Linked DNA regions of Homo sapiens. The protein of the gene in region 1 interacts with the protein of each later gene in a pairwise test. Each region holds a gene or a part of one and is shown in the gene's direction. Other genes may lie near its edges.

Region 1 (3,110 bases):
ACCGAGCAGGCCAAACAAAATATGTCTGTGGGTCTGATTCATTCATTCATTCATTCATTCATTCATTCATTCATTCATTCATTCAACAAGCCTTTGTTGCGCGCCTACTTGGCACAAGGCACTGTTTCAGGTACTGGGGAGACTGCATGAACAAAACCTCAAAGTCCTGCCCTTATGGAGCTGACACTAGGTCGAGAGAAAGATAACAAGTGAAATAAGTGAACTATCTAGTGTGTTAGATTTTGAGAGTGTTAAGGAGAAAACGTAAAGCCAGGAAAGGGTGTGGGCAGCAGGTGTTCATGTCTAGAAGCTCAGCGTCTGTCACCACGTGGGGTGGTATCCAGCCCTACCAGGCCCTGGGGGCTCCAGGGTGGAGATGGTCCTCCTCCCTTCTCCAGCCTTTCTGCCCCCTGGCTCACATCCTCTTTTGCTCTCTGACTCCTCAACAGGCATAATCACCAGCAACACCCGGGACAATAATACGGGGGCCACCTACCCCCACCTGAACTTCAGCATTCCCATCACGGTGCTCCAGCCGGCCCTGCAGCAGTACAGCCAGACCCAAGACCTAGGTGGCCTCCGTGAGCTGGACCGCGCTGCTGAGCCAGTCAGGGTGGTGTGGCGGTTGCAGCGGCCCCTGGCAGAGGCCCCGCGGAGCAAGCTCTGAGGCTGTGTTACCACCTTTGGAAAGAAGAGTGACCTTTTTCTGCTGTAGGAAGTGATGTTGAGGTGACGGTGGCCTCAGGATTCAGGGCCCAGCCCCTGCAGGGGCCCAGGCTGCCTCTCATCTCCACCCACTGACTGCAGACTGGGCTTTGGGCTCTGGGGCAAACTTCTCTTCAGCCCCATGGATCCTTAACCTGGCAGCCCGTTTTGGGGTGCTTTCTTGAGCCCCCAGTTCTCTGTCCCCTAGCACTAGACTCAGCTGTATTGTTTTTCCTTCTGGGGAGCCCACTCCAACTGCACAGAAGTTCTGGGCCTGACAGGTAGATTCCAGCTGGAAGGCAGGCCCGTGCCTGGTTTTGCGTCTGTTCCCCTGAGGGCCATCGTCATCCTGGAGCTTCAATGGGGCCTTGGCTCCTGTCTGCCTCTCAGTCAGAGTCAGGGCTGACAAAGGACTCAGCTTCCTTAGCATCTCAGCAGAAACCTTGCTCTGAAGACCAGAGACAGAAGGGACAGAAACAGGAGTGCCTCCTGCTGTGCCAGGCCCATGGGCAGTGCAGGCAGATCCCTGAAGGTCAGCACTCCTGGGTCTTCATATGCCAACAGGGGCGCTCTTGACACTGTGCCTTCATTTTCCAGCCCACAGCCTGGGTCTCAGGGATCTTGAGGGGTAGAACATGTCTGGTTGGGGCTTGGGAATAAACATGATCTATTGAAAAACCTCTGTATTTATATATCAAATTGTTTCTTTTTTTCAGGAGTTGAACTGGGAATAGGCAAGTACCAGGCAAAGAAACACACCCTTTCCTTTTTTTTTTTTTTTTTTCTTTAGAGCTGTGGTCTTGCTCTCTCACCCAGGCTGGAGTGCAGTGTTGCGATCACAGCTCACTGCAGCCTCAAACTCCTGGGCTCCAGGAGACCTCCTGCCTCAGCCTCCTGAATAGCTGGGACTACAGTCGCGCACCACCACGCCTGGCTAATTTTTTATTTTTGTAGAAATGGGGTATTGCTTTGTTGCCCGTGCTGGCTTCAGCCTTCTGGTTTCAAGCAGTCCTCCTGCCTCAGCTTCCCAAAGTGCTGGGATTACAGGTGTGAGCCACTGTGCCCAACCCAGAAATACACCCTTTCTGTGCTGTTTTCTCAGCAGGGTGTGAGCTCACGGGATACGGTCCTGCCAGACTGGCCCTCATAGCTGGTCATGTGCCAGTCAGAGCTGGGTGGGGCTTGCAGGTCCCGGAAGGTGGTGGTCTTGACCTGGCAGCAGATGCTTAAAGAATGCCTAAGGTGGGTGGCAGTTGGGGAGTTCAAGGGTGAATGAGGCCAGGGCAGCCCCCAGGAGCTGAGGCCAACTCTTTGAGTCAGGACTGTGCCGTGTGCCCAGGGCCTTGCATGTGTGGGCCCTCGAGTGATTTCTACTGGCAGGCTGAAAGCCCTGTGAGGGGCGGCTGTGGGCGGAGGCCACGCAGGAAGAGTGCTTAGGAGTAACTTGTTTCTAACACCTGTGTGCTGAGTGCCAATGCTGGGTGTGGTGTTATGATATATATTGGTTTTCATCCAGCATTCCTGACTCGTAACTCTCATAGTCCTTGTTCCAGTCTTTGTTAGAATACTGGGTATGTTAGGGCTTGGGACAGGCCTCTGACCTCTGGGTATCCTTTCACTAATGTTCGCCCACCTTTTTCACAGTGGGTCCTAAAGACCTTCCCATGAGAGGGTCTCAATCCTAGGGGAAGGAATGTTGATGTCATGAACCTTCCATAAAAACCCAAGAGGACAGGGTTCAGAGAGCTTCTGGATAGCTGAACACCTGGCACTTCCTGGAGTGTGGCGTGCCCAGGGAGGGCACGGAAGCTCTGCACTCCTTCCCCTTCCCTCATTCCTTGCTCTATGTGCATCTCTTCATCTGTATCCTTTGCGATATCCTTTATAATAAACCGGTAAACATAAGTAAGTGTGTCTCTGAGCTCTGTGATCCACTCTAGCAAATTAATTGAACCCAAAAAGGAGGTCGTGGGAACTCAACTTGAAGCCAGTTGGTCAGAAGTTCTGGAGGCCTAGACTTGTGCCTGGTGTGGTTGAGGGGGGCAGTCTTGGAGACTGAACCCTCAACCTGTGGGGTCTGACAATGTCTCTGGGTAGATAGTGTTGGAACTGAATTAGAGGACACCCGGCTGATGTCCACTGCTTTTGGTGGGGAAACCCCACACACATTTGGTCACTGAAGTCTTCTGTGTTGATGATTGTGATGGCATGAGAGTAGAGGGAAAACACGATTTGAGGAGAGTTTTTCCTAAAACACGGGGCAATCACAGAACACTCCTGGGATGGTTGTTCCTCCCTTTACAGATTAGGAATGGGTCCAGAGGTCATGGCTAGTTTAAGAGAAGTTCTACAGTAAGTTAATGGTAGCAGAATCCTAGATCTGAGGTCTGACTTTGCTGTGAGAG
Region 2 (3,728 bases), on another chromosome or scaffold:
GAGTCCCCAGGGAGGCCCATGTCCAGGGTTTGGGAGTAGGTGAGGGGGGCACACGCCAGTGAGAATGGCTGCTTTGGCATCTCCCAGAGGCTCAGGATTCCACTCCATCTTCTGCTTCATCTCCCTGTGCCTGAGTGGGACTTGGTTGGAAGGTGAGGGGGTGGGGGTCACCTCAGATGGCATTCATCAGTGTCTCATGGCAGCAGCCAGAGCTGGGTCAGGGGGTCATGGGTGCCCTCCATGTAGGGCAGCACTTTGGACAGCTTTGGACTATCGCCAGTAGTGACCACCCTAAGGGACTCCTCCCTTCCTGTCCTGTCTTTCTAGTCTGTCGTCTATTGCCACGGAGGGCGTGTTGGCTTCTTCCAGGGAGATATCCGCCTTCTCTCAGATGACATGAAGGCTCTATGCCCCACCATCTTCCCTGTGGTCCCACGACTGCTGAACCGGATGTACGACAAGGTAAGTTCTGCAGGGAGTCTTCAGCCAGGCTGAGGGGCTGCATATTTGCTTGTTTGGACAGGGTCTGGAGCCCCAGGCAGGCTTTCAGTGCCTCCACTGCCAAGTCCTGGAACTTGCCTCCTCTCTTGTAGTTCCTGACTCTTTCTCATTCTTCCTTCTCCTGTTTTCTTCCTATTCTCCAAATACCCCTGCGGGAGAGATTTTTTTTCAGGAACTTCCATCTTCACAGCATGCCTGGACCCTGGCAGTGTTAACCTTCAGCTCAATGTCACACATTCAGTGACCTCCTGCAGGGGCAAAATGGAACATGGCTTCTCTGCTGGCCAGTCTGGGCCTTATTCCTGGGGGATATATCTAGAAATGAGACATTCAGGCTCTGACAGCTGCTTCCAACTTATGTTCCTCAGATCTTCAGCCAGGCAAACACACCATTAAAGCGCTGGCTCCTGGAGTTTGCAGCAAAGCGTAAGCAAGCCGAGGTCCGGAGTGGAATCATCAGGAATGATAGTATCTGGGATGAACTCTTCTTTAATAAGATTCAGGTAAGAAAATGAACAAGTGATTATAGAGTGACACCTAAGTATCCAACGGGTGACCTTGCAGGAGAACTGGAGAAGTTCATCCCAGTGCCCTGTAATCATGTGAAATAGTAACTCATTTGCTCATGAAATCAAAGCTTAAGCTATGATTGAAATTTTAAACTTAGACATTTTTGATTTTTGGAGATACGTTACATTTGAGATGAGCAAGAAGAAAACCTACTATGGATAGTAGGTCCCTTGATCTCCACAGGCAACAGTGTGGCTTTGACCTTGGGTAGTCAGGTCAGTGCTCCACTGAGAAGCTCCTGGGCCCTGAAGTTCTCTTGCCCCTCCCTGTAATCCTGGCCATGGTGGCTTTCCAGCAGCATGGGTCTAGCCAAATGGTTCAAAATCTTCTTTTTCTTTTCTGTGTTCTGTCCCTTTAGTATCTCCCACACCAGGCCAATCTTGAATTACTCATTTCTGTACCTCCTCAAAAGTTTTTAAACTCTGCATTATCCAAGGAATCTGTAGTCAATTAGTAGCATTATTCATTTTTTTCTTGCTACTCTATTTTTAGTTATGAAAATTAATATTTAAAATATCTTGGCTCAACTTACATAAACAAAGTGTTTCAAGTATTCTTCGTCCTCAGCAGTACATAGTAAATAAAGCATGGTATTGATTTATACATGAAAAAAGGCAATGCCATTAAAATGGAAATTGGAAGAAATTGTCCTAAGTAATTGTTTTGGATTCTTGTCAATGATGGGAGAGTGACGGAACAGCTGTGTATTTTAAGGAAGGGAGAAGAACCAATATTATAGAATGCCACCCAGACTGATGGTACTTATCTCAAAAGGCATAAAAGAATTGGTCATATGGTGGATTGAGCTGCAGAGCTGATTGTGTTTATCATTAGGAAGGGGAAGGAGTTTCCTCAGCTCGTGTGTTGTACAACCTCAGGCCTTCTTTCTGATCCCAGCCCTAGCATCCAGGTAGGACCCAGTTGTTGGATGTTGACCTTGGATGAAACCCAGATGGACTGGACACCATCTCAGACATCACAAAATTTGGCAGCTCTTCTTTCTTCCCACAGGCCAGTCTTGGTGGGTGTGTGCGGATGATTGTTACTGGAGCAGCCCCAGCATCACCAACAGTTCTGGGATTTCTCCGGGCAGCTCTAGGGTGCCAGGTATTGTCATTGTGTGTCCTCCCTTGGAAACAGCAGGAAGTTCGTTAGGGCAGGAAAACTACTATACCCTCTACTGCTCAGAGAAAGAACCGGGGGACAAGATTTTTGTGAGACAAAAGCTCCCTCCTCTGAGGAGGAAAAAACTCAGAGCCAGTGAAAGCCAGGATGGCATTGCCACATTCTGGAAAGCCCAGGTTTATCCACTCTGGGAAATTCTTTTATCTGGACCTTTGGAAGTTTTTCACAAAGGGCAAAGGGATCAGACAAACCATAGACAGATCATCAATGTGCGGTAGAATCTGTACCATACCTGTACTGCATCTCTACCTTCTTCAGCCTGCAAAATATCTTGCAACCCAGAAAAGGAGAACAAGGGAGAAAGCCCATTTATGTGTTATTTGATCTATTATGTTTTGTCATCTCTAAAAGTTTATTTCTTCATTTTCCATTCAGCTCATATTTATTAAGTTTCTGCATATGAAGGGTATCATAACGTGGTTGTGGCTGATGGATTTGAAGTAAAGTAGACCCATCTTTTTCATAATTGTGCGTGCTTAAATTTTTCTGCTTTAGAAGCCTTGATCTTTATTCACTGTACTCCTATTCCACATCAGCATGGCCTAACCACTTCTAAAGGCAGACACTCCTGCATGGTGTATTCATGCAAACAGGTGGGGCTCTGGAGGGGAATAGCTTATGGAGCCAAAATAAAACACAGAGTAGATTTTAAAATGTTTATCTTTAATTCATTATTATCCAGATGAAAAGTAGATTCAGTGGTTGAAAATAGGTCAGAAATCTTTACCCTAAACTATATAACCTTATCTACTAAGTGTCTGTGATAAAAATAGCACTTCTCACGCCTATAATCCCAGCACTTTGGGAGGCCGAGGTGGGTGGATCACGAGGTCAGGAGATCAAGACCATCCTGGCTAACACGATGAAACCCCGTCTCTACTAATAATACAAAAAATTAGCCACGTGTGGTGGCACATGTCTGTAGTCCCAGCTACTCGGGAGGCTGAGGCGGGAGAATGGCGTGAACCCAGGAGGTGGAGCTTGCAGTGAGTGGAGATCACGCCATTGCACTCCAGCCTGGGCGACAGAGTGAGACTCCGTCTCAAAAAAAAAAAAAAAATAGCACTTCTTCCAAGCAAATGTGGCCATGCTTGTTGTCTGTGTTCAGTTTCACCTGGAGTTATCTACCTCCAGAGCACCTCCCTCCCTCCATCGCCCTGATCATGAAGCAGTCAGACACGCTCAGTGGGAGGTTAGCTGTCTGGAAGGGGTGGCCAGTTAGCTCTTGGAGGGTGTGTGCCCATAGTGTGGCTTCTGTGTTTTGTTTGAAGGTTTATGAAGGTTATGGCCAAACTGAGTGCACAGCTGGATGTACCTTCACCACTCCTGGCGACTGGACCTCAGGTAGGATGGGCTAGAGATATAGGACTGGCTCGCGAGGCACTGTGGAGTAAAAGCAGCCAGCTCTAAAACTCCCTCATGGAAAGTAAATTTGCATGGGTACTTAGGAATAAAGCAAAAGAGACAGAAAA
Region 3 (3,728 bases), on another chromosome or scaffold:
TCCTTTTATTTTGAGCCTATGTGTGTGTGTCTCTGTACGTGAGATGGGTTTCCTGAATACAGCACCCTGATGGGTCTTGACTCTTTATCCAGTGTGCCAGTCTGTGTCTTTTAATTGGAGCATTTAGCCCATTTACATTTAAGGTTAATATTGTTATGTGTGAATTTGATCCTGTCACTAGGATGTTCACTGGTTATTTTGCTCGTTAGTTGATGCAGTTTCTTCCTAGCCTCAATGGTCTTTACAATTTGGCATGTTTTTGCAGTGGCTGATACTGGTTGTTCCATTCCATGTTTAGTGCTTCCTTCAGGAGCTCTTGTAAGGCAGGCCTGGTGGTGACAAAATCTCTCAGCATTTGCTTGTTTGTAAAGGATTTTATTTCTCCTTCACTTATGAAGCTTAGTTTGGCTGGATATGAAATTCTGGGTTGAAAATTCTTTTCTTCAAGAACGTTGAATATTGACCCCCACTCTCTTCTGGCTTGTAGAGTTTCTGCTGAGAGATCAGCTGTTAGTCTGATGGGCTTCCCTTTGTGGGTAACCCGACCTTTCTCTCTGGCTGCCCTTAACATTTTTTCCTTCATTTCAACTTTGGTGAATCTGACAATTATGTGTCTTGGAGTTGCTCTTCTCGAGGAGTATCTTTGTGGCGTTCTCTGTATTTCCTGAATTTGAATGTTGTCCTCCCTTGCTAGATTGGGGAAGTTCTCCTGGATAATATCCTGCAGAGTGTTTTCCAGCTTGGTTCCATTCTCCCCGTCACTTTCAGGTACACCAATCAGACGTAGATTTGGTCTTTTCACATAGTCCCATATTTCTTGGAAGCTTTGTTCGTTTCTTTTTACTCTTTTTTCTCTTAACTTCTCTTCTCACTTCATTTCATTCATCTGATCTTCAATCACTGATAACCTTTCTTCCAGTTGATCGAATTGGCTACTGAAGCTTGTGCATTCGTCACGTAGTTCTCATGCCATGGTTTTCAGCTCCATCAGGTCATTTAAGGACTTCTCTATGCTGGTTATTCTAGTTAGCCATTTGTCTAATCTTTTTTCAAGGTTTTTAGGTTCTTTGTGATGGGTTCGAACTTCCTCTTTTAGCTTGGAGAAGTTTGATCATCTGAAGCCTTCTTCTCTCAACTCGTCAAAGTCATTCTCCGTCCAGCTTTGTTCTGTTGCTGGCAAGGAGCTATGTTCCTTTGGAGGGGGAGAGGCGCTCTGATTTTTAGAATTTTCAGCTTTTCTGCTCTGTTTTTTCCCCATCTTTGTGGTTTTATCTACCTTTGGTCTTTGGTGATGGTGATGTGCAGATGGGGTTTTGGTGTGGATGTCCTTTCTGTTTGTTAGTTTTCCTTCTAACAGTCAGGACCGCCAGCTGCAGGTCTGTTGGAGTTTGCTGGACGTCCACGCCAGACCCTGTTTGCCTGGGTATCACAGTGGAGGCTGTAGAACAGCGAATATTGCTGAACAGCAAATGTTGCTGCCTGATCATTCCTCTGGAAGCTTCATCTCAGAGGGGTACCCGGCCATGTGGGGTGTCAGTCTGCCCCTACTTGGGGGTGCCTCCCAGTTAGGCTACTCGGGGGTCAGGGACTCACTTGAGGAGGCAGTCTCTCCGTTCTCAGATCTCAAACTCTGTGCTGGGAGAACCACTGGTCTCTTCAAAGCTGTCAGACAGGGACATTGAAGTCTGCAGAGATTTCTGCTGCCTTTTGTTCGGCTATGCCATGCCCCCAGAGGTGGAGTCTACAGAGGCAGGCAGGCAGGCCTCCTTGAGCTGCAGTGGGCTCCACCTAGTTCGAGCTTCCCGGCTGCTTTATTTACCTACTGAAGCCTCAGCAATGGTGGGCTCCCCTCCCCTAGCCTCACTGCCACCTTGCAGTTCGATCTCAGACTGCTGTGCTAGCAATGAGCAAGGCTCCATGGGCGTGGGACCCTCCGAGCTAGGCACAGGATATAATCTCCTGGTGTGCCGTTTGCTAAGACCATTGGAAAAACGCAGTATTAGGGTGGGAGTGACCCAATTTTCCAGGTGCCGTCTGTCACAGCTTCCCTTGGCTAGGAAAGGGAATTCCCTGACCCCTTGCCTTCCCGGGTGAGGCCATGCCTTGCCCTGCTTCAGCTCATGCTCAGTGGGCTGCACCCACCGTCCTACACCCACTGTCCAACAAGCCCCAGTGAGATGAACCTGGTACCTCAGTTGGAAGTGCAGAAATCACCTGTCTTCTGCGTCGCTCACGCTGGGAGCTGTAGACTGGAGCTGTTCCTATTCGGCCATCTTGGAACCCAACCCAAGTCTGGCATTTTTTGGTTTTCTCTGTGTATTGACTATGATTATAGAGGATAAATGGATATTGATATTATTAAATCGTCATTTACAGAAGGCACACAACTTATATCCTTTAAACAAAGTTCTCCAACCAGTAGGGTATACTTGCTGGTAGTGCTTACAGCTGCCACCATTCTTCACTGGGGCTCAGAGTGGATGCCTGGAGGAAAAAAACAAATGAATCTTTTAGCTCCTAGTTACTGTTAGCATTTTTACCAGAAAACAATTTAAAAAATGACACAAGTAAGTCTTCACCTATCAAGGCTGAGTGTGGTGGCCTATACTTGTAATCTCTGTGCTTTGGGAGGCCAACGCAGGAGGATCTCTTGAGTCCAGGAGTTTGAGACCAGCCTGGGCAACAAAGCAAGACCCCATCTCTACAGAAAGTTAAAATTTAGCTGGGCATGCTGGCACATCCCTATAGTCCCAGCTACTTGAGAGGCTGAGTTGGGAGGATCCCTTGAGGTCATGAGTTGGAGTCTACAGTGAGCTGTGATTACAGTGTGAGTCTACACTGCACTCCAGTCTGGGTGAAAGAGATCCTGTCTCTCAAAAAACAAGTGATTCTCCTGGGAAGAGATTTGTTTAAAAAGTCTGCACCTCTATTGATGATAACTTTGAATGTAAATGGATTAAATTCTCCCACTTAAAAGATATAGATTGACTGAATGGATTAAAAACCACCATCATGACTCGACTGTATGCTGCCTACAAGAAACCTCACCTGTAAAGACAGGCCAAAAGTGAAGGTATGGAGAAAGATATTGCATACAAATGGAAGCCAAAAAAGAGCAGAAATAACTATACTTACATGAGATAAAATAGACTTTAAGTCAAAAACTGTAAAAAGAAAAGTCATTATGTAATGAAACAAGGATCAATTCATGCAAGATATAATCATATTTTTTTATTAAGAAAATTTTTTTGTAGAGATGGGGTTATGCTATGTTGCCTGGCTAGTCTCAAACTCTGGGTCTCAAAGCAGTCCTCCTGCTTTGGCCTCCTAAGGTGCTGGGATTATAGGCATGAGCCACTGTGCCAGGCCTGAGGATATTATCATTATAAATATATATGTACCCCACACTGGATGACCCAGATATAAAGCAAATATTATTAGATTTAAAGGGAGAAATAGACTCTAATACAATAGTAGTTGAGGACTTCACTCTACTCTCAGCATTGGACAGATTTTCTAGACATAAAACCAATAAATATTGGATTTAAATTGCACTTTACACCAAATGGACCTGACATTTACAGAACATTCTAATAGGTGCAGAACACTCTAATAGCTGCAGAACACACGTTCTTTTCATCAGCACATGGAACATTCACCAGACTAGTTCTGGAACCCACTTCCTGCCTTAGTGTTCTTTCCACCACAGTGCATGATAATTCCGACAG

Evidence for each region.
Region 2: the proteins of TYSND1 (region 1) and ACSL6 come close enough for resonance energy transfer, tested with the Homo sapiens proteins (one large-scale study listed by BioGRID).
Region 3: the proteins of TYSND1 (region 1) and SOD2 come close enough for resonance energy transfer, tested with the Homo sapiens proteins (one large-scale study listed by BioGRID).

Annotation. Positions count from the first base shown.
Region 1 is NC_000010.11:70,137,481-70,140,590, reverse strand, and holds the end of TYSND1 (peroxisomal leader peptide-processing protease), read left to right. Parts: intron 1-449; coding exon 450-667; 3' UTR 668-2,610; downstream 2,611-3,110. UniProt on the Homo sapiens protein: Peroxisomal protease that mediates both the removal of the leader peptide from proteins containing a PTS2 target sequence and processes several PTS1-containing proteins.
Region 2 is NC_000005.10:131,970,000-131,973,727, reverse strand, and holds part of ACSL6 (long-chain-fatty-acid--CoA ligase 6), read left to right. Parts: intron 1-327; coding exon 328-462; intron 463-869; coding exon 870-1,004; intron 1,005-2,082; coding exon 2,083-2,178; intron 2,179-3,527; coding exon 3,528-3,600; intron 3,601-3,728. UniProt on the Homo sapiens protein: Catalyzes the conversion of long-chain fatty acids to their active form acyl-CoA for both synthesis of cellular lipids, and degradation via beta-oxidation.
Region 3 is NC_000006.12:159,669,165-159,672,892, reverse strand, and holds part of SOD2 (superoxide dismutase [Mn], mitochondrial isoform A precursor), read left to right. Parts: 3' UTR 1-3,728. UniProt on the Homo sapiens protein: Destroys superoxide anion radicals which are normally produced within the cells and which are toxic to biological systems.